Linked DNA regions of Homo sapiens. The protein of the gene in region 3 interacts with the protein of the main gene of each other region in a pairwise test. Each region holds a gene or a part of one and is shown on either strand. Other genes may lie near its edges. The genes, in order: SENP2, PPIF, AGTRAP and SCAND1.

Region 1 (7,037 bases), on a different chromosome or scaffold from region 3:
AGTTGTAGAACAGTTTTTTTTAACTCCCTTACACACACACAAAAGAAAAAACAGTAAAAAAGAATTGTCTTTTAAGGCTGTTCATATTAATACTGTCACCTAAAGTAAAAGATGGCTTTCTTTGGGGATCATTTTCAAAAGGAAATTGCTTGTTTGTTGTTTTTAAATCATTTCTGGAGCGAAAGAGAAAATACTGTCCTAAACTCTTACCTGGGTTCATTTACTAGCTAAGTGACTTTGGCCAGTTTTAAGTTTGTACTTTAACCAGATGGCAAATTATTATTTGGTAAGAAGTTTGTTTCTCTCTCAAATAGTTGAAACTGTAGCAGTAAGTCTTCGCATGTGAAAAGCCTACTATAGAATAGCATTCTCTCTTTTGTTTTGCTTTTATTTTTAGTTTTATTTCTTTTTAAAACAAGGTCTCACTCTTTTGATTAGGCTGGAGTGCAGTGGCATGACCTGGGCTCACTGCAGCCTTACTTCCTGGGCTCAAGTGATCCTCCTGCCTTAGTGTAGCTGGGACCACACTCACTTACCACCAAGGCTGGCTAATTTTTTATTTATTTTTTTATCGTAGAGATGAGGTCTTACTTTGTTGCCCAGGCTGATGTCAAACTCCAAGGCTCAAGCGATCCTCCCCCTTGGCCTCCCAAAGTGCTGGGATTACAGGCACGAGCCACTGTGTCCCACCAGCATTCTCTTTTAAAACATCAGTTGGATCTCATTTTATGACAAAGTGATAGAAGGGGGATGTGTTATATGAATAGTAAGTTTACTTACAGAAATGAATGTGTGTGTAAATCTATATATATATATTTTTTTCTTTCTCTTTTTCAGCACTCTGTTTTCTACAGTGGACACTGATGAAATACCAGCCAAAAGACCAAGATTAGGTACTGAATATAAATTTTAAAAATTTTTAGTTTTTAAATAGGAAAAATATATGCATGGAACAAAATTCAAAAGGTAAAAAGTATCTGGTAAAAAGTAAGTCTTGGCCGGGCGCAGTGGCTGTAATCCTAGCACTTTGGGAGGCCAAGGCAGGCGGATCACCTGAGGTCAGGAGTTTGAGACCAGCCTGGCCAACATGGCAAAACCCTGTCTCTACTAAAAATACAAAAATTAGCTTGCTGTGGTGGCAGGAGCTTGTAATCCCAGCTACTCGGGAGGCTGAGGCAGGAGAATCGCTTGAACCTGGGAGGTGGAGGTTGCTGTGAGCCAAGATGGTGCCATTGCACTTCAGCCTGGGGCGACAGAGCAGGACTGTGTCAGGAAAAAAAAAAACAAAAAAACTTAAGTCTCTTTCCTGGCCCGACGTGGTGGCTCAAACCTTTAATTCCAGCACTTCAGAGGCTGAGGTGGGAGGATCACTTGAGGTCAGGAGTTTGAGACCAGCCTGGCCAACATGGTGAAACCCCATCTCTACTAAACATTAAAAAATTAGCCAAGTGGTGCACGCCTATAGTCACAGCTACTCGGGAGGCTGAGGCACGAGAATCGCGTGAACCTGGGAGGCGGAGGTTGCAGTGAGCCAAGAATCTGCTACTGCACTCTGCACTCCAGCCTGGGCGACAGAGCGACACTCCATCTCAAAAAAAAAAAAAAAAAAAAAAAAGAAAGTCTCCTTTTTTTTTTTTTTTTTTTTTTTGAGACAGAGTCTTGCTCTGTCGCAGGCTGGAGTGCAGTGGCGCAATCTCGGCTCACTGCAAGCTCTGCCTCCCAGGTTCACGCCATTCTCCTGCCTCAGCCTCCCGAGTAGCTGGGATTACAGGCACCCACCACCACACCTGGCTAGTTTTTTTGTATTTTTAGTAGAGATGGGGTTTCACCGTGTTAGCCAGGATGGTCTCCATCTCCTGACCTCGTGATCTGCCCGCCTCGGCCTCCCAAAGTGCTGGGGTTACAGGCGTGAGCCACCGCACCCAACCCAAGAAAGTCTCTTTCCTATCCCTTTCTTATCTTTTCTAGAGGTAACTACTGTTACCAGGGACTTGTCTAATCCTTGCAGGTAAATAAGCCTAGGTGTAGACTGTGCATTTTAAAATTCTAAATCATTCTACAAAGAAAAGATACTTCTTATTTATTTATTTTTTGAGATGGAGTCTCGCTCTGTCACCCAGGCTGGAGTGTAGTGGTGCAATCTCGACTCACTGCAACCTCCACCTCCCGGGTTCACACCATTCTCCTGCCTCAGCCTCCTGAGTAGCTGGGACTACAGGCGCCCGCCATCATGCCCGGCTAATTTTTTGTATTTTTAGTAGAGACGGGGTTTCACCATGTTAGCCAGGATAGTCTCAGTCTCCTGACTTCGTGATCCACCTGCCTCAGCCTCCCAAAGTGCTGGGATTACAGGCGTGAGCCCCCGCGCCTGGCCCTACTTATTTTTAAGGAGGAAATGTTGTAAATGTTTCAAACTGAGGTGACTCTAGTTCAGATGGCTGAGGGAACCCATCTTTTCTATTTTTTTTTTTCGAGACAGGGTCTCATTCTGTCACCCAGGCTGGGATGCAGTGGCATAATCATGGCTCACTGCAGCCTCCACCTCCCTGGGCCCAGGTGATCCTTCCATCTCAGCCTCCCAAGTAGTTGGTTGGGCCTACAGGCACGTTATCACACCTAGCTGATTTTTGTATTTTTTTTGTAGAAACAGGGTCTTGCCACATTGTCCAGGCTGAAAATAGGCAGCAGTGGCATTTTGAAAGAATACTCCTGTCTTTAAGAACCGGTAATATTTCTTTTTTTTTTTTTTTTTTTTTTTGAGACAGGATCTTGCTCTGTCTTGATCTTGTCATCAACAATTTTTTTTTTTAATTTTGTAAGAGGCAAGGGTATCACTGTGTTGCCCAGGCTTCAGTGCAGTGGCACGATCGTAGCTCACTGCAGTCTCAAACTCCTGGGCTCACACAATCCTCCTGCCTCAGTCTCCTGAGTAGCTGGGACTATAGGCCCATACCACCACACCTGGCAAATTATTTTGTATGTGGATACTGAGTCTCCATATGTTGCCCAGGCTGATCTTGGAACTCCTGCCCTTCCAAAGTGCCGGGATTATGGATATGAGCCACTGTGCCCAGCCAAGTCTTTTACTTCAGTATATCTGAATGGATAAAGAAAATAAAAGTAGATTAAAGGAAAAAGGCATAGTAAAATGCTATAATAATATATTCCTCTTTCTCAAAAATGATTATAAATTTGGGTCTACCTCCAGATGTGGTAATTGAGTGTGGACATATTTGTGTTAATATTTCGTTTAAATTCAGTGAGTACTTATTGAGCATGTCTCAGTGCTAACCAATGTGTTAGGTTTTACAGAAAATACAAAAATTAGTAAGACAGGGTCTCCTTTTTTTTTTTTTTTGAGATGGAGTCTTGCTCTGTTGCTCAGGCTGGAGTGCAATGGCACATTCTCGGCCCACTGCAACCTCCGCCTCCCAGGTTCAAGTGATTCCCCTGCCTCAGCTTCCCAAGTAGCTGGGACTACAGGTGCCCACCACCACACCCGGCTAATTTTTGTATTTTTAGTAGAGACAGGGTTTCGCCATGTTGGCCAGGCTGGTCTCAAGCTCCTGACCTCAAGTGATCCACCTGCCTTGGCCTCCCAAAGTGCTGGAATTACAGGCGTGAGCCACCGTGCCCGGCCTGGGTCTCCATTTTTAAGGACCTTATATGATAATATGGTAGGGGGTATAAGACAATCACATAATAATGCTAATGTCAATGAAAATATAAAAAATAAAAAAACAAAGATAGTAACAAAATCCTATCCAATTTTCAGCTCATCGAGTCTCAGTAAATGTTTGCGGGAGTTAGTATGAGTTAGTATGTTAGCCCAGGTCTTGAAGGATGGATAGGATATCAAAGGAGAGCAATAGGAAGGAAAAATATTCTAGGCAGAGGGAATAGTATGGGAAAGTTGTGTAAATTCAAGAAATAGTGAATAGAGCTCAGGGAAAAAAAATGGCTGAAGACAGGTAGATCAAATTATCGTTCTGTTTTGTTTTGTTTAGTTTTTTAATAGAGACAGGGTCTTGCTATATTGCTCAGGCTGATCTCGAACTCCTGGGCTTAATTAAGTGATCCTCTCACCTTGGCTTTCCAAAATGTTGGGATTACAGGCGTGAACCACCATCCCCGGCCAAGGATTTTCAAATGACAGGAATTTATACTAAATTCATTAGAACAGTATTTCCCAAAGCACAGGATAGATACCAATTTAGGAAATGATTTTAGGGGATTCAACATTCACAGCATTATGTAACATTTGAATGATGATTATGTACTAAGAAAGGTGTATCCTTTTCAGTTATTTATTTGAGGTGCTCACATCCTGTTTATTTCACACAGAAAATCTTGATTTAATGCTAGTATATCTTCAATACTTGTCTAATATATGCTAATCTCCCATTTTTTAACAGGCCCAACTAGAACTTAGTATTATTGTGTTTTCATTTCTTTTTTTTTTTTTTTTTGAGACGGAGTTTCTTTCTCGTTGCCCAAGCTGCAGTGCAATGGTGCGATCTTGGCTTGTTGCAACCTCCACCTCCCAGGTTCAAGTGATTCTCCTGCCTCAGCCTCCCGAGTAGCTGGGATTACAGGCGCCCACCACTATGCCCGGCTAATTTTTGTGTTTTTAATAGAGACAGGGTTTCACCATGTTGGCCAGACTGGTCTCGAATTCCTGACCTCAAGTGATCGCCCGCCTCGGCTTCCCAAAGTGTTGGTATTACAGGCGTGAGCCACCTCACCCGGCTGTGTTTTCATTTCTTTATAAGGCAGGTGATGTTGGCTTTACATATACAGTAGTAATTTAAAATTATCTTTTTTTTTTAAGCCAAAAAAGGAAGTCAGTTTTAAAGAAAAATATAAATAGCTTGTACTTGGATGTGGTTAAAAAAAAAAAACACACACAAACGTTGGTATTACAGAAGGTTTCTGACTTAATTATTTAGGACAATCATCTGTTTTATGGATTCTATGTTAAGGATCACTTATTGCATCATTCCCATTAAATATGTAGTATGATTTTCTGAATGGCAAATTGTAGAAGGGAATCTAAACCAAAGGGTAAGCGGTGGGTAGCAGAGTTTGTAAAGGCCTGTAAAGTGCTGCCCAAGAGAACTTCCTGCAGTGATAACTGTTGAGCACTCGAAATGTGGCTAGTTCAACTGAGGAACTGAATTTTAAACTTTATTTGATTCTAATAAAACTTTAAGTTAGGTAACCATATCTGGCTACTAGCTACTGTGTTGGACAGTACAACTCCATTGGTTGCTTTTGAGAGAAAAAAAAGCAAAGCAAGGGTAAAAGAAAAGAAAGAAGACCTCAGAATTTCAGGCTCATGATCTTTTTTTTTTTTTTTTTGGGACAGAGTCTCGCTGTGTCACCCAGGCTGGAGTGCAGTGGCACAATCTCGGTTCACTGCAACCTCCACCTCCCAGGTTCAAGCGATTCTCCTGCCTCAGTCTCCTGAGTAGCTGGGATTACAGGTGTGCACCACCATGCCCAGCTAATTTTTATATTTTAGTAGAGACGGAGTTTCACCATATTGGCCAGGCTGGTCTCGAACTCCTGACCTCAAGTGATCCACCCTCCTTGGCCTCCCAAAGTGCAGCTAATTTTTGTATTTTAGTAGAGACAGGGTTTCACCGTGTTGGCCAGGCTGGTCTTGAACTCCTGACCTCAAGTGATCCACCCACCTTGGCCTCCCAAAGTGCTGGGATTACAGGTGTGAGCCACCGTACCTGGCTCAGGCTCATGACCTTAAAGGTGAAAGAGATTTTAAGAGATCTATGTAGTCTAGTTTCAGGGAAGTAAGGTGATCTTTTCCCCATTTTACAGATGAGGCAGGCCTTCTGTTTTTTAAAAAAATCAGTGAGATCTTTTGACATAATCTCAGGGGCATACCGAGATTTTGATAACATTCGTAGGAAAATAAATATTATGATATTGTTTAGTAGCCACAATTTGCTATGTTACCAAGAGGCTTCTTGTCCTCTAGAGTCTGGATGACAGACTGTGGGTTAAGCATCAATCGCTAAAGCTCTTCTTCTCCTCCTTAGAAAGTGCAGCAGAGTGTGTACTATCCCTCAGCACTATTAGAAGGGGATAACCTGGAATTCTCTGATTCCTAAAATGAAAAACAACTCATTTGCATAGTTTGGTACTTATAACTATTAGCAAATTTCTCAAATTGGATTGTGCTTTACCTGGCCATTACTTTTTCCCTTTTGTTTGTTATTCCCCTATGTTTCTGGAAAGTAGTTTACATGTTCTGGAGCACTGCTTAAAAGCTACCATTGCAGTCTATCTTTCTCTAAAGCAGAATGGCTAATGTGATGTTCTGTTTTTCTCAAACTAGCGTCTTCAAATACCCTTAATTAGGACATAGGATATTGTAGAAAGCTTACATCAGATATATAGAAAGTGAGAAAGAGGTAGTGTAATAAAAGGAGGAAGTGAGGAAAGCACTGAAACCTACCCTTTCCTTTTATTTTTGGTGGCAAGGAAGGGTGAGCCTGAGATTTTTTTTTTTTTTTTTTTTTGAGACAGGATCTCCCTCTGTCACCCAGACTGGAGTGCAGTGCCGTGATCTCACCTCACTGCAACCTCTACCTCCCGGGTTCCAACGATTCTTCTGCTTTAGCCTCCCAAGTAGCTGGAATTACAGGCATGTGCCACCAGGCCCAGCTAATTTATTTATTTATTTTGAGATGGAGTCTCACGCTGTTGCCCAGACTGGAGTACAGTGGTGCCATCTTGGTTCACTGCAACCTCCGCTTCCTGGATTCAAACGATTCTGCTGCCTCAGCCTCCAGAGTAGCTGGGATTATAGGTGTGTGCCATGACGCCCAGCTAATTTTTGTATTTTTAGTAGAGACGGTTTCGCCATGATGGTCAGGCTGGTCTTGAACTCCTGACATCAAGTGATCTGCCCGCCTTTGCCTCCCAAAGTGCTGGGATTACAGGCTTGAGCCACCGTGCCCAGCCTAAGATCTTCTAACACATCTCCACTAGAGGGATAGTCTTGTTCTATCTTA
Region 2 (5,403 bases), on a different chromosome or scaffold from region 3:
ATGGCTGTCATGACCTCTTTGAAGACCTTCCTGCCTGGAATTCTCTCCCCATTCCCTCCACCCTGACCCAGTGGCCGTCATCGTACCGTGGTAAGTGGCAGCGGGTTGGGACTGGACGTCTATGTGCGGCGAAGCCTGGATACGGGGTGAACACAGGGACGGCAGGCCTGGCCCAGCCCTAAGGCTGATGGTAAAGTAGGAGCTGAGGTGGAAGTCCTGAGCCAGGGTGGGAACTCCAGCGCGGGAGGGCTCCCTGGCACAAGGCGGTGGCACCGGGAGTCCAGACCAGAGTCCTGAGTCATCCGTTGGGAGGGATATCAATTAGGGAGCACCTAATTGACACCTGTGGATGCTTCAGCTGGGCTGGTCAGTTCCCCTCTCTTACCCACGGATCCCATCTCAGGAAAACAGCAGCCAGCCATGGCCTGGGCTGGGCAGCGCTAGGCATAGGGGCTGCTACCAGGCTCTTCTGGCCATGGGTGCCCCATGCAGGTTTGGCCACGGCTGCCTGGGCCTTAGCTGAGGCCTGAGGAAAGATGTCAGCCTTGGGCAGACTCTGTCCTGGGTCTGCAAGGGTTGGGAAAGCTGCTGGGCTGGGTAAGGGGCAGTGCGCGGACAGTGAGGGGACTCGGCCTGGGGAGCTGGTCTGGACCAGCTGCTGGTACTCCCACAGACTAGACTCGGGAACTGGGGGGCCTCTGGCCTCTTCCTTGTTGCCCTCCAGGAGGAGTGGGTTAAATTCTGGGTCACTAAGTATCATCTCAGAATGGCCTTTAGGTCTTTTGAAGATTACTTAAAAATTTGCTCAGACAAAAAGTAAGTCATTTGGAAACAAAGGTAGTTACGGTGACAAAAGATATTTAAGTTTTGTCTTTTTTTTTTTTGCTTATTATTCTTATTATTAGCTCTTATTTTATTGGATGTTTATTGACCCCTTTACCTGAGGGGCGCCAACTGGGTGGGCTTGGGTGGGCTGAGGCTGCTGCCAGCGCCAGGGCCGTGGCCCCCGCCTGCTCCATGGTAGCCACTCAGAAGGTGCTTTGTGCTCACAGGCGGGCGACTTCACCAACCACAATGGCACAGGCGGGAAGTCCATCTACGGAAGCCGCTTTCCTGACGAGAACTTTACACTGAAGCACGTGGGGCCAGGTGAGTGGGGGCCTCCTCTAGGGTGAGTGTCCCCACAGCTCTGACCTGGCCTGGAAGCCCCAGCAGGCCCTGAGAGGCCACATGCAGTCACCGTCCAGTATCTGATGAGTCTCCTTCCTCCCTGCGACACTGTAGGCTGTCTCAGCATTTCTGGCTTGTTGAGTTTCCCTAGAGTTTTCTCATCTCTCAGTTTAAAAAGCAGGGTTTCCTTTGGGAACTTTGTGGAAGAACCTTTAAGCAGAATGGAGGCCCTGGCCACCTCCCTGTTTGTCCTCTGAGTTTCGGGTTGGAAATTCTAGGACACTTAGAATTGTTGCAGAATGGTCCTTAGGTCCTTTGAGGATTATTTAAAATCTTGCTTAGATAAAAAGCAAATGGTTTGGAAGCCAGAGTGGTTATTGTGGCAGCATCGTGTCACCTATAAGACCCAAGGTAGAATGTGGAGATGTCTGGAGGTCAGGTCCTGGGGTCCTGCCCCAGGTCCCGCCCCAGCTCTACCACTGAGAGCTTCCACAAGGCCCTGTCCTCTCAGGCCACCCCACTGAGAACTAGCAGGCAGCAAAGGCAGGCATACCCTGGGGGGCTGGTATCGGGCCCTGGTTCTCCTCTTCTGGGTCCCAGGATCTGCAGACTCGAATGTCCCTGGTGTGGTTTGCACCGTCTGCCCTTTCAAATGCCCTCCCAGGCAGGTGCCTCCAGGGGCAGCGTGGCTCAGCCCTGCTGGTTTTTGCAGGTGTCCTGTCCATGGCTAATGCTGGTCCTAACACCAACGGCTCCCAGTTCTTCATCTGCACCATAAAGACAGACTGGTGAGTTCCCTGCCCCAGGCCCTCTGGGAATGCGGGCAGCCTTGCAGCTGGAGGAGGATTCGTGCACTTTTAGGGGCAGGCAGTTTACAGCCAGGCCTTCTGCTCTGGGACAGTGGCCCTCTCCCAGGCTGTGTGTTTGTATGAGAAAGAGAAAGTTAGTGGAAGGATCAAGGGAGAATTGGGGTTGTTCCTGCAACTCTGTCATGGTTCGGGTTCCCATTGTTGCTGTCACCTGGAATTTTCTGAGTGTGTTCTGCTCACACGCACACACGAAAGGGTTTCTCTACCAGATACATTTGGGAAATGTTGCAAAACATATTATGAGGCCTCAGGAGGGACTGAGTAGAAGCCCACTTGTGTGGTTTTAACCTGGAGTTTCCCAGGCTTGTCTTGACCATGGGCTGAGCCTTGGCAATGCTGCAGCAGACATTTGGATATCAGCAAATTTCCAAATGAAGCCTCTGTATTATCATAAACCTGCAGATAGCCACAGGCCTGTAAGGGCCCTGTTTTCAATGCCCATGGATTTTAGGGATGTCTCTTTCCTGGTACATTTTCCTCTAAGGGATAAATTTCTCTGGCCAGAGTCCCAAATGTCCTAGCCCTGGGGCACCTGGGGATGAACTGGCTGGGAGCTGACTTGGTAAAGCCCATTTCCGAGGATTTTAGGGAGACCTAGGTGGGGCAGACACTAGAAGTGTCCAGCCTCCAAGCCCAAGAGATGTGGCCGGCAGGGCTGGGCAGGTCCTTGCTGGCTCAGCCTGCTCTTTGCTCCTTCATGGGACCCCAGTGGATCCTGCAGTTCTGCTCTTGGCTGGAACCACGCCAGCTTCGCTGGAGCTGGACTGAGCCGCCTTTTACATTATTGGACTCTCTCGGGTTGAGAGCTGCCCAGGACTCCTGCAGTTTCACCACCCTTGTTCCTTTGACTCTTGACTCATCATTCATGACCGTTAACGTGGTTCCATTTGTATGGACTTCTTCTTTCTTCAGAGCATTTCAGTATCCTGTTACCTCCCCATGCAGAACAAAGAATACTCCACTTTTGATAGATGGGGTTACCAGGATTCAGGCTACATGGCCTGAGGCAAGGTCACAACATGAGTGACAGAATGTGTCCTGGAAGCCAGGCATCCTCTGGGGTGTATTTGGGGCGCTCAACAAGGCTTGATCGAGCTTTGGGGGTAGATCTAGCTATTCCATGGGGATTCTTTTCAGAATTGCTGTTTTCGGTAACTAATTCCATGACCAGGTCCATGGCATTGGATGACATTGCGCTACACTGTTGCTCACCCGGGTCACCCGTCCTCACAGGTTGGATGGCAAGCATGTTGTGTTCGGTCACGTCAAAGAGGGCATGGACGTCGTGAAGAAAATAGAATCTTTCGGCTCTAAGAGTGGGAGGACATCCAAGAAGATTGTCATCACAGACTGTGGCCAGTTGAGCTAATCTGTGGCCAGGGTGCTGGCATGGTGGCAGCTGCAAATGTCCATGCACCCAGGTGGCCGCGTTGGGCTGTCAGCCAAGGTGCCTGAAACGATACGTGTGCCCACTCCACTGTCACAGTGTGCCTGAGGAAGGCTGCTAGGGATGTTAGACCTCGGCCAGGACCCACCACATTGCTTCCTAATACCCACCCTTCCTCACGACCTCATTTCTGGGCATCTTTGTGGACATGATGTCACCCACCCCTTGTCAAGCATTGCCTGTGATTGCCCAGCCCAGATTCATCTGTGCCTTGGACATGGTGATGGTGATGGGTTGCCATCCAAGTGAAAGTCTTTTCCTTGACCAAGGGGGACAGTCAGTTTTGCAAAAGGACTCTAATACCTGTTTAATATTGTCTTCCTAATTGGGATAATTTAATTAACAAGATTGACTAGAAGTGAAACTGCAACACTAACTTCCCCGTGCTGTGGTGTGACCTGAGTTGGTGACACAGGCCACAGACCCCAGAGCTTGGCTTTTGAAACACAACTCAGGGCTTTTGTGAAGGTTCCCCCGCTGAGATCTTTCCTCCTGGTTACTGTGAAGCCTGTTGGTTTGCTGCTGTCGTTTTTGAGGAGGGCCCATGGGGGTAGGAGCAGTTGAACCTGGGAACAAACCTCACTTGAGCTGTGCCTAGACAATGTGAATTCCTGTGTTGCTAACAGAAGTGGCCTGTAAGCTCCTGTGCTCCGGAGGGAAGCATTTCCTGGTAGGCTTTGATTTTTCTGTGTGTTAAAGAAATTCAATCTACTCATGATGTGTTATGCATAAAACATTTCTGGAACATGGATTTGTGTTCACCTTAAATGTGAAAATAAATCCTATTTTCTATGGAAGACTGGTACCTGGTTTCTGGAAGAGGGGTCTGTGACTTGGAGCTGATCTTTACTGAGCTCGCCGTGGCAGATGCCATGCTCAGGACGTTCATGTGGATGGTTTCATGTCATCGTGCTGGCAACTTGTCCTCCCTGCCTTAGAGATGAGGCTCAGACAAACGACCTTAGCACCCATAGCCTATGCCATGAGCACTGGCTCCACCCTGAATCCCAGCTCCTCCCCTTAGTGACCCCAAGTCTGTTTCCCTCAGCTGCATAAGGAGGCGATATAGTTTGAATATTTGTCCCCAGCCAAATCTCATGTTGAACTGTAATCCCCAGTGCTGGAGGTGGGGCCTGCTACGAGGTGTTTGGATCATGGGGACGGGTATTTCATGGCTTGGTGCTGTTTTCTTGATGGTGAATTATTGCAAGATACGGTCATTTAAAATTGTGTGGCACCTCCCCCTGCCCCCTTCTTGCTCCTGCTTTCACCATGTGACATGCCTGATCCCCCTTCACCTTTTGCCATGGTCATAAGCTTCCTGAGGCCTCCCTGGAAGCTGAGCAGATGCCAGCACCATGCTTCCTGTACATCCTGCAGAACCATAAGCCAATTAAACCTTTTTAATAATAAATTACTCAGTCTCAAGTATTTTTTTATAGCAATACAAGAATCCTAACACGGGTTAACAATAAGGCCCACCTCGTAGGGTGGTGATCCACGTGAAGTGCATAACGCAGTGTCTGGCGCACCTTCCTAAGCACTCTGGAGTGACAAGGATGATGACCTTTCCCCTGTCAGGGTCTTAGGAAGGAGGAGGGATGCCAGAGCAAAGGAGCCTCCATCATCTGAGGTTAGGAGTGGACTTCCTAGGATAAGCCAGTTCCATTTGGAATTGACTTCTAGGTGTTTCCAAATTCACAGGGAAGGCAGGATTGGAGGTAAGAGCTTCCCTAGGTAGACAGGGCTGTGGTGTGGCCCGGCAGTTGAGTGGTCAGGCAGGCAGTTCTCAGAGGAAATTTGGGCCCTTTTGAGGGCATCTAACAGAATTATTTCTCACTGGGGTTCCCTGAGTGAGGTTATGTGTAGTCTTAGGTTAATGGAGTCACTCTGAGGTCATGGTGACTGGGGTCGGGT
Region 3 (5,171 bases):
CCTTTACCATCTCTTTTAATCTGTTGAGCTTCTGGAGACATTTCTCTGCCAAACCAAGACTGGAAACCATTGAGCTCACCTGTGCACTTTGCAAACTTCGAAGTGCAGCGCACAGGGCAACAGCTGTGAGTAATGTGAACTGTAACCATCATGATTCACGACCTTGAGAAGCAGGGCCAAAATACAGATTTCTTAGTCACACTTCCCCAAGATTCTGAGTTGGTGATTCTGGGCTGGGACCCAGGCACCTGCTTTCTTAAAAGCAAAAGATAAGATGGTTTATTCAAAGACCTATTGAACCGAATGGCACTCCACACCTGCCTTGCACATGTCTTCTGCATGTTACACTTTAGTGAATGTCCTATAAATCTAGGAAGCGCCCGCTGCATGCAGGGGAAGGCAAGGCCCAGTGGGTTTGGTAATAAATGAGGTAGACTCAGTCCCTGTCCCCCTGAGTCTTCCTTGCAGCACAGCAGGGTGAGCAAGAGCATGGCCTCTCCAGCCAGACTCCAAATCCCAGCCCCACTGCTCAGCAACTGTGTGACCTTGGGCGAGTTACTTAACCTCATTGTGTCTCAGTTTCCTCATCTCTAAAGTGAGGGTAACAATAATACTTCCTTCCTATGGTTATTAACATAAATGTACATGAATGAGTTAATTTAAAACAGAACCATGCTAGGTACTAGCAAGTGATCGGTGTTCACTATGATTTTGATTGGATTGACAAGTAAGTCAACAATGTCAGTATCAGTACCCTAAAAATAGAATAGGGCGGGCCTTGTGTTAGGAAAGTGACGAACTTGTACTTAGCACCGGTGGGCAAGGGAAGGAGTCTCAGGGTGAACATTCGAGTCTCAGGGTGAATGACAAAAGGAGGGCCAGGTGTCAGGGTAGAGGGCGCCCGCCGCACAGGGCAGTGGCTGGGAGGTCAGTAGGGCGAGGCTGTGTCCGGGATCCCACAGGCCCCTTAGGCCCTGGTGAAGAGTCTGCATTTTATTCCAAATGGGACAGAAAACTGTTGGAGGATTTTTAGCAGAGGAGTGACAGCATCTGACTACGTTACCGGTTGCTGTTTAGAGAACAGAGTGGCAGTCAGGACGCTGGCACAGGGTGGCTGCGGCTGTCATCTGCCAGGAGAGGGAGGTGCTTTGGATCTACAGGGACACAGCCAGATCCAGGGTCTGGGTGGGAGGCGGAGCCCATGGGATTTGCTGGCACACAGCCGGGTGGCCTCGAAGACTATGGCATGTTCTGGGAGGAGGCCCTGAGACGCCGGAGCAGGAGGGAGGTGACCTGCGGGGTGGTGGCCTCCTGACGGGACTGAGCTACCTCTTCCTACAGGGGCTGCATTGTATTCTCAGGCTCCTATGCCTGGGCCAACTTCACCATCCTGGCCTTGGGCGTGTGGGCTGTGGCTCAGCGGGACTCCATCGACGCCATAAGCATGGTGAGCCAGGGTGGGGGAGAGGCGGCAAGGCGGGGAGCCGCAGCACAGGGCAAGACATAGCCTGGCTCTGCTACCCCGTCCCATCCCAATCTTCCCCCTCTTCCTTGGGCCACCACTTCCCATTGTCTAAAGCCTGTTCATCAGCCTCCTGGGCTCCGGCCCATGCCTGTGTTCAGGAGCCCAGCCTGCTGCTCTTCTTGTCTGGCTTAGAGAACCCCAAGTCTGCCATTATCTCCCTGAGGAAAGCCATGGGGTGGGTCCCACCAGTGCCTCGGATTAGCCACTTCGCAAGAGCAGTGGAACATCCCCTGTAACCTCCCTCTGCGGCTCTCTTTTAGGGGAGGGGATATGGCTGGGAGACCCGGCCAAGAGGGCATTTCACTACTTTAGGAAGTAGAGGTGACCCTGCCCCACCGAAACCTCCCACAGGGGGAGCTTCTCAGCACCCACGGAGCCCCGTGGGGCAGTGAGCACTCCCGCACGGGCTCTTCAAGCCGAGGCCAGGGCCTCAGGATGACTGAGAAGAGATTTTCTTTGTGTTGGAGAAGGACTGGGTGAACTCCAAGGAACCTTCCTCTATGGAGGTTCTAGAGCCAAGTCTTGTGCCCATCATGGCCTTGGAGATGACGGGAAATGGGTGGGGAGGGAGGCTCTGGTGGAACCGAGACCTGGGCCCCCGGCATCCCTGCCCCCAGACTGCAGTCTCAGCCAGCGGCTCCCCAGCGGGGCCCTGCCTGCTTGCTTGATCCATTTTCCCGCAAGCCCCAAGGACACAGCAGGGCATGAAACGGCTTCCCATCCGGTGTGTGGCGGGGGAGCCACGGAGCGTGGTGGGGGTGTTGTGCTCATCAGTGTGGTGTGTCTTGCAGTTTCTGGGTGGCTTGCTGGCCACCATCTTCCTGGACATCGTGCACATCAGCATCTTCTACCCGCGGGTCAGCCTCACGGACACGGGCCGCTTTGGCGTGGGCATGGCCATCCTCAGCTTGCTGCTCAAGCCGCTCTCCTGCTGCTTCGTCTACCACATGTACCGGGAGCGCGGGGGTGAGCTCCTGGTCCACACTGGTGAGGCCACCACCTCCAGCCAGCTCCTCACCGCTCCCTTCTCTCCCTTGCCTGGCCTCCAGCCTCTCCCTCAGTGAGCCAGCCTTGCCCCATGGGGCCAGGGCTCAAGGTGCAGGGAGAGCGTGGCATGGGCGCTCTGTACTAGGCTGGACAGGTCCAAGCTCCTAGTCTCTGCTGCAGGAGCCCAGGGGTCCCCTGGTTGTCCTGGTCTGCCGTGACCTTCTTCTGCTGTGAAGCTGAGGCTGGGCCCTTCTCTCAGCCCAGAACACAGGCACAGCTGGGGGTACCATTTAGTTCCCAGGGGCAGCCCTGGGCTGTCTCCATCCTGAGGGCCACGGGCACCTACAGGTCTCCTCTCTGTTCTCACCGGGGCCCATCACTGGAACCCCATTTCCTGCCACATGGGGTCTTCCCTCTCCTGCTGCAGAGACTGCTAGGTGGCCAGGGCAGAGCCCGTGCCAGTGTAGGCTGTGGGAGCCTCAGTGAAGACAGCCCTGAACAGGGGGCACTTTCCCTGCCCACCGGCCCCTCCCCACTCACCCAGCCTTACACCTGCCCTCTCCCACGCCCTCTCTGAACTCCTGTACTCCTTCTCCTGGTGGCCGAGCCATTTGCCTGCTCTCTGACACCTCTCTCTCTCTTCCTTTCTCTCTCTCTTTGAGAGGAGTGGAGGGAGGTGGTAGGGTGTGGCCTTCTGCCTTTCACTCCTGAGATGAGATGCCCCACGTGGCCTGTGACTGCCACCAGCTGGTTGAGGGTGGGAATGGCCTGGGGCTGCCCACAGTGGCTGACCTCAGCACTGCCTGGGCCTGCCCCCAGGTGAGGGGTGCCAGAATGTTTCTCCCATTGGACAGATGAGGAAACTGAGGCCCACATCCTTTGGGACTTGTTCAGGGTCCCGGGATGAATGTACAGAGTAGGGGATGGGAGTGAGGCATGTGGCGTACTCGGAGCCCTACGGCCCTGCCTTGGACCCAGCCCCAGCCTCCGAGGCCATCTGGATATGGTAATGTGGTGTCCTTGTACCTGGGAGGGGAGCTGGAGAGGAGTGCGTGGGCCCGGGGCTGATGTCCCTCTGCCCAGGTTCCTAAGCACGTGCTGCCTGGGGAAGCCCATGGCACAGGGGCCAGGAGCCTGGCTTTGGACTCGGCTGCCTAGGCGTGGGTCCCAGCATCATCAGCTTTGAGCTGTGTGATCTCGGGCAAGTCACTTCATCCCTTTGACCCACAGTCTCCTCATCTGTAAAGTGGGGACAATAAAAATACCCGTCGCACAGGGATACGGCAGGATTGAATGAATAATACACGCTAAAGGTTTAGGGCCTGGGGCTGCTGCCTCTGTCTCTGTGCATGGTGTCAGGATGCCCAGCCCGAGGGTGGCGGGGGTGGATCTTGGGTTGGACTCAGCTGAACATCCCGAGTTCTCACCCTTCATTTTTCTTTCCCACCATGTCCCCTGTCACCTAGGTTTCCTTGGGTCTTCTCAGGACCGTAGTGCCTACCAGACGATTGACTCAGCAGAGGCGCCCGCAGATCCCTTTGCAGTCCCAGAGGGCAGGAGTCAAGATGCCCGAGGGTACTGAAGCCAGCCACGCTGCGCCCGGCCCTGCCCCGGGCCTTCCTCGTGCCTGGGAGGTCGTTCTAGGGATGCTCCTGACCTCCGTCTCTTGGACCTAAGATGGAATGTGTCCCCAGCTCAGGGATTGCCTGAACCAAGAGGCCAGGAGCCCCCATGGGCCGCCCAGTACCATGCACACTCCTGTCCCGAACTCCCTGAGGCCTCCCCTCCCTTCAGGGCACCCACTGGTTCCCAGGCTGGAACCAGGGTCTCTCTTTACCTCCTACCCCATGGTGGCACCACAGAGGCCCTCAGCCGAGTCCTGCCTGAGTGTTGCAAGCTCAGGCCTTTAAGGACTGCTGATGCCCCCTCAGGCCTCCCCCAAGTTTGCTGGGCTTTGGTGGAAGCCCTGAGAGCTTCAGGTCCTGCTCAGCCCGAGGAGCAGTCTGGCATGGGAGTGAGGCCCCGTCCTTCTCACTGCCTGGTCACATGGTGCCTAGGGATGCAGGGCTGGAGGCCAGAGGTGTCAGCAACACTGTGTCCCACCACAACCTCCAGCCTCCCTTTTCAGAGCACAGCATTAAAGTTTGGGGAATTCTGTAGATGGGCTGTGTTTTGAACCACCTTCAATCTCCTGGCTGGGCTGGGGCCTGGCCTTGTTCCTGGGAAGATGTCTCCTGCCAGTTCCCAGGTGGAGCCTGTGCTGTGCTGCCCCATTCTGTCATGGCAGGAGGAAACAGGCATGTGCGTTGGCTGAGCTGGGCTTGAGCCTGGCTCTGGCCTAGCAGAGGCCACAGGAGAGAGAGACACTGGTGGGTGTGGTGCGTGGGCATCCGTTTCTCTGAACCAGATGACCCAGGCACTCTTTGGAATCCTGCTCTGCCACTTACTAGCTGCATGCCTTCAGTGTCTTCTAGAAAGGGTTGGTGCCTGCTCCAGGTGTGAAGTGCCTGGCGTGAGGAGGGCTCCCTAAGTGATGGTGAACTTGTTAGCAGTGGACCTGCTCCTCAGGCCAGTGACGATGCTAGGTTAGGAGGCAGGGGCGACCTCTTCCTGGTAGCCCCTGTGTCTGGTCACAGCTGACTTGGGCTGACACGTCCAG
Region 4 (6,354 bases), on a different chromosome or scaffold from region 3:
TAAAATGAGTAGCTTCAGTAATGTAAATAATCCATTACTTCAACTAGTTCTGCTTTATTCCTACCACAGGCCTAAAATTTGGCAAGGAAGTTGAGCAAGCCTGGCGGCATAAGCCAGAGCTCACAAGAACTAGCCTATCTCTGTGAAGGTGTGCAGTAAACACTTCACATTAAAATGGCCCAGTAACTTGGACATTTTGGGAAGCCTGTACCCAAAGGGCAGGTGCAAGTTGGTGCCCATATTGGTATAGAGGTAGCCAGTTAAGTGAGCATTTAATAGAGCCAGCTATTTTGCGTGTAAGAAACCCAAGTGGGTCCTTGGGAGCCCAGGTGAAAAACTTCCCATGTGTGGTAGAGGGATAACCTAGGTTCAGTCAACATCTAAAGATCCCACTATAGCCAACGAAGGCCTTATTGTTACGGACTCCCAACTTCGTTTCGCCACCAGCCAGAAAGGCGGTAGGAAACAGGCTTGGTAAAATAAACCCAATAAGAACGAATGAAAGAGACACACCAGACCACAGGCGCTGCCAAAACTCATTTTTCATTAACACGGGGTGGGGTCCCAGGCTCAGGCCCCCGGGCCCGATCATGGCCCCAGTCCGCACAGAGCGCCCGGCCCTGGCCGCCCGCAGCTCCACCGCTCAGCCAGTGATGCGCACATCCGTGCGGCGGCGGATCCGCCGGGCCCGAGCCGCCTCGGGCAGGATGGCGAGCAGCTGCTCTTGCACCAGCATCTCCACGATCTGCTCCTTGGTGCGGATGTCAGGCCGCAGCCACTGGCGGGACAGCTCCCGCAGCTGCCGGAAAGCCTCCCGGGGACCCGCCGCATCCTGGTAGCGGAACTGCCGGAAACGCTGGCGGAACGTCTCGGGACCGAGTCTAGAGCCGGCGGGGCCTGGTGTGGAGCGCGCTTCAGCTTCGGCCTGAGGCGCTACGCTCACGGGTGCGGGCCCGAGAGGCAGCTCCAGGGCCGCGGAGGCCGCAGCTCGGGGCGTAGGGATGGCTTCAGGGACCGCGGCGTTGGGACTGGAAGGCTCAGGGGCAGGCGGTGAGGCCTCTGGCAGCGAGGAGCCCACACAGTTACGCTCAGGGGCTGAGCTCGAACCGGCTCCTTCCAGTTTCTCCGGTGGCACCGCCGCGGGACTCCCAGTGGCCGCCAAGATCGGCTCCGTAGCCGCCATAACTCCAGCTCCGGGCGTCACTCTTTGTCCGGTAGCTGTGTGCTCAGCACTGCGTCTGCGCGGGGGTGGGGTGAGCAGGGAGACGTTTCCGGTTAAAGGGCAGAGCTCGCGTCACCCTTGAGGGAGTCGGACTCGGGACCGGCCGAGAGTGTGCGGAGCTTACCTGCACCAGCGAAGCGCCTGCGGCAGCCGGAAGCGAAAGTCTCTGGCTTCTCTGCGTCCAGGTCGGCGCGCGAGCACCCGGAAGCCGCTTGCGGGCTCCCGGAAGCGGCGCCCTCTAGCGTTCTCGAGTCGCATGAGGCGGCTGCTGCCCTCGCGGTGCGGGAGGGCGAGCTGCGCGTGGCCTGGGCTCCTTCCGAATGGTGGCGCCTCTGAGCGCCAGTTCGAGGAGGAGTCGGAGGAGGAGCCTGAATGTTTGGAGATAGACTTCAAGTCCCGGACCTTATCCGTGCGCCGCTTCGGTTTGCAGGTGACCTTTGCGTGCGGGCGCCCCTTCTGATTGACCCTGATGAGCTGTAGCTCTGATGGCCCCTCCTTCGGGAATGATTAGGGTGACGGCTGGCCGGGGCTCGTTCGAGTGGCGCCCGGCCGGTGGTGACCCGAACAGGAGAGCGGGACGGCGACCATTCTCTCGGGAGGGGCCCATCTGGAGAAAGTCCTCTCGCTTGGTCAAACTAGGAGGGCGATAGCACCGGCCTTACTGCGACGATGACAAAGTACAACACACCGTCTGGCGCGAAGGAGATGCTCGAGAACCCTTTGCTGTTGTTATTTTTCGCGTGTCCTCCGAAACCAAGGGAAATGCGGCTCTGTGGGTTCTGTTAACGTCAGCATTTAATAAGTGAACTCTAAATGCATTGCCCCTTATGGTGGCCGCTGGCCTCCTGAGTTGACTCAGCTCTTGCAACGTAGCTAGTTGATAACCCTCGAAATATAGCGAATTGAGATGTGCTATATTGTAAAATACGGGACTTAGTACGAAAAAACTGATGTAAAAATTATCTCAATACTTTTTAATACTGATTACATGTTGGAATATAATGTTTTGCATATATTGGGTCAAATAAAAATGTTATTAATTTCACCTGTGTTTTTACTTTTTAAATGCAGCTTCTAAAAACATTTAAATTGCATGTGCAGTTTACATTATATTTCTGTTGAGCAGCCTTGGGTTAGAGTGTTGGAGTGAGGCTACCTTGGTGGAATCCCCTTTGACGATACCCAGCTCAGAGTTGTTAGGAGGATTAAATAAATTAAGCCGTTGGAGAGAAAGGGCTTTTAAGAAGTTTGCTCTTGTTTTTATTAGGTAAACTGCTTGCTATCTCTGAGCTACTGTTTTCTTATCAGTAAAATGTGGATGTAATAGAACTTACCTCTCAGAGGTAATTGAGAATTCAGTGAGATGATGTAGGTAAAAGCACGTGGCCCTGACAGCCCTCGGCCAGGTGGTTTTCTGTTTGGTAGCTGACTCACAAATAGTTTTGTTTTTGTTTTTGTTTTTGTTTTGAGACTGAGTCCTCCGCCTACCGGGTTCAAGCGATTCTCCTCCCTCCGCCTCCCGAGTAGCTGGGATTACAGGCGCCCACCACCACACCCGGCTAATATTTTATATTTTTGGTACAGATGGAGTTTCACCGTGTTGGCCAGACTGGTCTCGAACTCTTGACCTCAGGTGATCCACTCTCCTCAGCCTCCCAAAGTGCTGGCATTACAGGCGTGAGCCACCGTGCCGGGCCACAAATAGGTTTTATATCCTCATTTTACAGAAGGGGAAACTGAGGCCCTCAAAGGACAGGGGCCTCATATGAAAGGTTTTCTATGACCTTGCAGTCCTTTTGAGCCCGTGCAGGATGGAGGAGCAGGTTTAACAACCATTAACATGCCATTAGCCCTGATATAAAACTTACCCCTACCATAGGATGTTTCCTTTGGATGGGTAGAAGTGGACCCTCATGAAATCATTTCCATAGCCTGAAAACCTTGAAAGTCGTTGCAGTGGGCCTTTAATGTTTTTTAGTTGCTGACATGTAAAAATTGGGAGATTTCACATGCAAATCTGGATTTCTAATTTTTCTTGAAAAAACGGAAGAGCTGGCCACACTGGACCCAAATTCCTGCTGGTCAACAATCAGCTGACACTGAGTAGAGACGACTTCCTTTAGACAAGATACTCTGTCCCATTTGGTCTCAATCTCAACCATTCCCTATGGTTCTCTGAAATAGAATGTTGTTTGCATTTACTGTTGCTCTCAGGTTGTTGCTTTATTTAGAGTTGATATTTTTCTCTCTTTTCTTTTTAGAGGTGAGAAAGCAGGGTCTTAGTGTTTGTTATGCCTACTGGCTTCAAACCTTGACTTCTGTCTGGCCCCTCAGTAGTTGGGTTTGCTGCCCAGAGTGACCAACAGTGCTATTCCCTGTGTGGTAACAGGTACTCAGTTTCTAGGCCTAAGGGAGCACACTAACCCTTCTGTGGAGGCAAGAGGTGATAGAAGTCTTCACTGGGGAGGAGACTTCAAGCTGAGACTCAAGAACAAAATGGGTGGGGCTCAGGGACATTCCAGGTAGAAGGTACTGCCTGTACAAAGGCACATAGTGAGTAGGAGCAAAACTGTGGAAACTGCAGGCTATATGGGAAAGTGGTTGGGATCTGGAGAAGGGGTGAGAGATGAGGTTGGAACACTGGTGGGGGTTAAATCATAAATGTCCTAGAATTCCATGTTTAAAATTTAGTTATTATCTTCTTGTGAAAGGGAATGAACTTTTGTGGCACCTGGAATCATGAGATGTTATGTTAGATCTCTAGTCTATTTCTTCCATCCCTATTGAAATCGTGAATTATTAGAGATAGGAGGAGGGACCTGAGAGATCTATTAGAATCATTGAATGTCAGACTGGAAGGGCCCTTAGAAATGGAATTTAAAAATCCAGCCCTTTGTGGGCCGGTAAGCCTGCTTTAAAGTGATTCAGCAGTAAAAAAATAATGTGGAGGGAATAAATGAAACAAGATTGGCTCAGTAGTTGGCCGGGCGCGGTGGCTCATGCCTGTAATCCCAGCACTTTGGGAGGCATAGGCAGGCGGATCACCTGAGCTCAGGAGTTCAAGACCAGCCTGGGCAACATGATGAAACCCTGTCTCTACTAAAAATACAAAAAATTAGCTGGGCTCGGTGGCTCATGCCTGTAATCTCAGCACTTTAGAAGGCTTGAAAGATTGGCAGTATGTACACTCTACTTTGGTATATGCTTGAAAATGTCCATGATAAAAGTTAAAACATTCAGATTCCCAGAATCTGAAAAAAAACATATAATGCCTCTTCTTCGAAAAGGGATGCAGTTATCTACTTTCATGTAATTTACATATATCCTTGAACCCTCCCAGAAGTCCCAGATTAAGCTTAAAATATACATTTATATTTCATTCTTTTGAATTTTGCAGATTGAGAAACCAAGATGTCAGAAGATGAAGGATTGGTCCAAAATAAGAAAGCTAGTAAGTGGTTTCATGAGGACAGAAATCTTTTGACTTTTAGTCCAAACTCTTATCTTATTAGGCCTCTTTATCCCTAGATTGGGAGTTCACTTGGGAAGGGATCATAACTCATTCATCTCATATCACTTAGCTTCCAACACAAGGCCTGACTCCTAGGTAGCTTCAGTGTTGATTAAAGGAAAGAGGACAAATGTGGATTGCAGACCATCCCTGAGAAGGCAGAGCTCTCATATGAGTCCCAGACTCTTTCAGAGACCTCAGTGCCTTTTGATGGCACTTGGTTGTTGAGGGTTGTGGAAAAGAAGCTTGGATACTTATTTTCTTTTTTATCAGAGCCATCACACTGGAGAATACGTCTTTTAAAAAGCTTTTCATTGGCCAAGCATGGTGGCTCATGCCTGTAATCCCAGCACTTTGGGAGGCCGAGGCAGGCGGATCACGAGTTCAGGAGTTTGAGACCAGCCTGGCCAATATAGTGAAATCCCATATCTACTAAAAATACAAAAAATTAGCTGGGCATGGTGGCAGGTACCTGTAATCCGAGCTACTTGGGAGGCTGAGGCAGAAGAATCACTTGAACCCGGGAGGCAGAGGTTGCAGTGAGCTGAGATCGTGCCACTGCACTCCAGCCTGGGTGACAGTGTGAGACTTCATCTCAAAAAAATAAATAAGTTTTTTATTTGGAAATAATTATAGATTCATAGAAGGTTGCAAAAATAGTTCAGAGAGGTTTCATGTACCCTTCAGTCAGTTTTCCCTAATGGTAACATCTTGCATAACTATAGTACAATATCAAAACCAGGAAATTGACATTGGTACAATCCACAGACTTTATTCACATTTTCCCAGTTTTACATACATGCATTTGTGTGTGTGTGTGTGTGTGTAGGTCTATGCAATTTTATCGTGTGTGGATTAATGCAACTACTACCACAATATCTAGAACTGTCTGATCACCACAGAGATCCCTCGTGCTATCTCTTTATAATTGCATCCATTCATCTTCCCTTCCCCTATCCCTAACCACAGGCAACCACTAATCTATTCTCCATGTCTATAACTGTGTTATTTAAAAAATGTTACATACCTGGAATCATATAGTGTATAATCATTTGGGCTTGGCTCTTTCCACTTGGCACAATTCCCTGGAGATTCACCCAAGTGGTTGCTTGTATCAATAGTTTGTCCTTTTTATTGCTGAGTAGTAATCTATGGTATAGATGTACCATGGTATATTTAACCATCCATTGAAGGACATTTGGGTTGTCTCCACCTTTGAGCTGTTACAAATAGAACTGCTATGAGTTATTTTATGACATGGCTTTGGGTAATCACTTATCTTTCTGAGCCTGGAAATAGTAACTACCACACAGGATGGTTCTGAATAGTCGAGGAGGAGAAATATATATAAGGGAACTGGTGCAGGGTTTGGCACAGAATATATACTTCGTCATTTTTTTAAAACCGATGGTTATGAAGAGATAATACTTCCTTGAATATGTAAGTTCTAGTATGTAGTATTTTTAAAAGTCACAGGCATTGATATTATTATTAGTGTATTAGTCTGTTCTCATGCTGCTAATAAAGACATACCCAAGACTGGGTAATTTATAAAGGAAAGACGTTTAATGAACTCACAGCTCCACGTGGCTAGGGAGGCCTCACAATCGTGGTGGAAGAC

Evidence for each region.
Region 1: the proteins of AGTRAP (region 3) and SENP2 interact in binary tests that used the Homo sapiens proteins (3 or more experiments, as listed by UniProt).
Region 2: the proteins of AGTRAP (region 3) and PPIF interact in binary tests that used the Homo sapiens proteins (3 or more experiments, as listed by UniProt).
Region 4: the proteins of AGTRAP (region 3) and SCAND1 interact in binary tests that used the Homo sapiens proteins (3 or more experiments, as listed by UniProt).

Annotation. Positions count from the first base shown.
Region 1 is NC_000003.12:185,589,277-185,596,313, forward strand, and holds part of SENP2 (sentrin-specific protease 2), read left to right. Parts: intron 1-837; coding exon 838-893; intron 894-7,037. UniProt on the Homo sapiens protein: Protease that catalyzes two essential functions in the SUMO pathway.
Region 2 is NC_000010.11:79,350,435-79,355,837, forward strand, and holds the end of PPIF (peptidyl-prolyl cis-trans isomerase F, mitochondrial precursor), read left to right. Parts: intron 1-1,052; coding exon 1,053-1,149; intron 1,150-1,882; coding exon 1,883-1,958; intron 1,959-3,210; coding exon of another isoform or gene 3,211-3,272; coding exon 3,273-3,408; 3' UTR 3,409-4,900; downstream 4,901-5,403. UniProt on the Homo sapiens protein: PPIase that catalyzes the cis-trans isomerization of proline imidic peptide bonds in oligopeptides and may therefore assist protein folding. Involved in regulation of the mitochondrial permeability transition pore (mPTP).
Region 3 is NC_000001.11:11,746,099-11,751,269, forward strand, and holds the end of AGTRAP (type-1 angiotensin II receptor-associated protein), read left to right. Parts: intron 1-28; coding exon of another isoform or gene 29-125; intron 126-1,341; coding exon 1,342-1,447; intron 1,448-2,316; coding exon 2,317-2,512; intron 2,513-3,978; coding exon 3,979-4,094; 3' UTR 4,095-4,671; downstream 4,672-5,171. UniProt on the Homo sapiens protein: Appears to be a negative regulator of type-1 angiotensin II receptor-mediated signaling by regulating receptor internalization as well as mechanism of receptor desensitization such as phosphorylation.
Region 4 is NC_000020.11:35,953,102-35,959,455, forward strand, and holds SCAND1 (SCAN domain-containing protein 1), read right to left. Parts: upstream 1,402-6,354; 5' UTR 1,347-1,401; exon of another isoform or gene 1,239-1,346; 5' UTR 1,184-1,238; coding exon 644-1,183; 3' UTR 523-643; downstream 1-522. Other genes in the region: CNBD2 (cyclic nucleotide-binding domain-containing protein 2), read left to right, coding at 1,479-1,652, 4,620-4,673. UniProt on the Homo sapiens protein: May regulate transcriptional activity.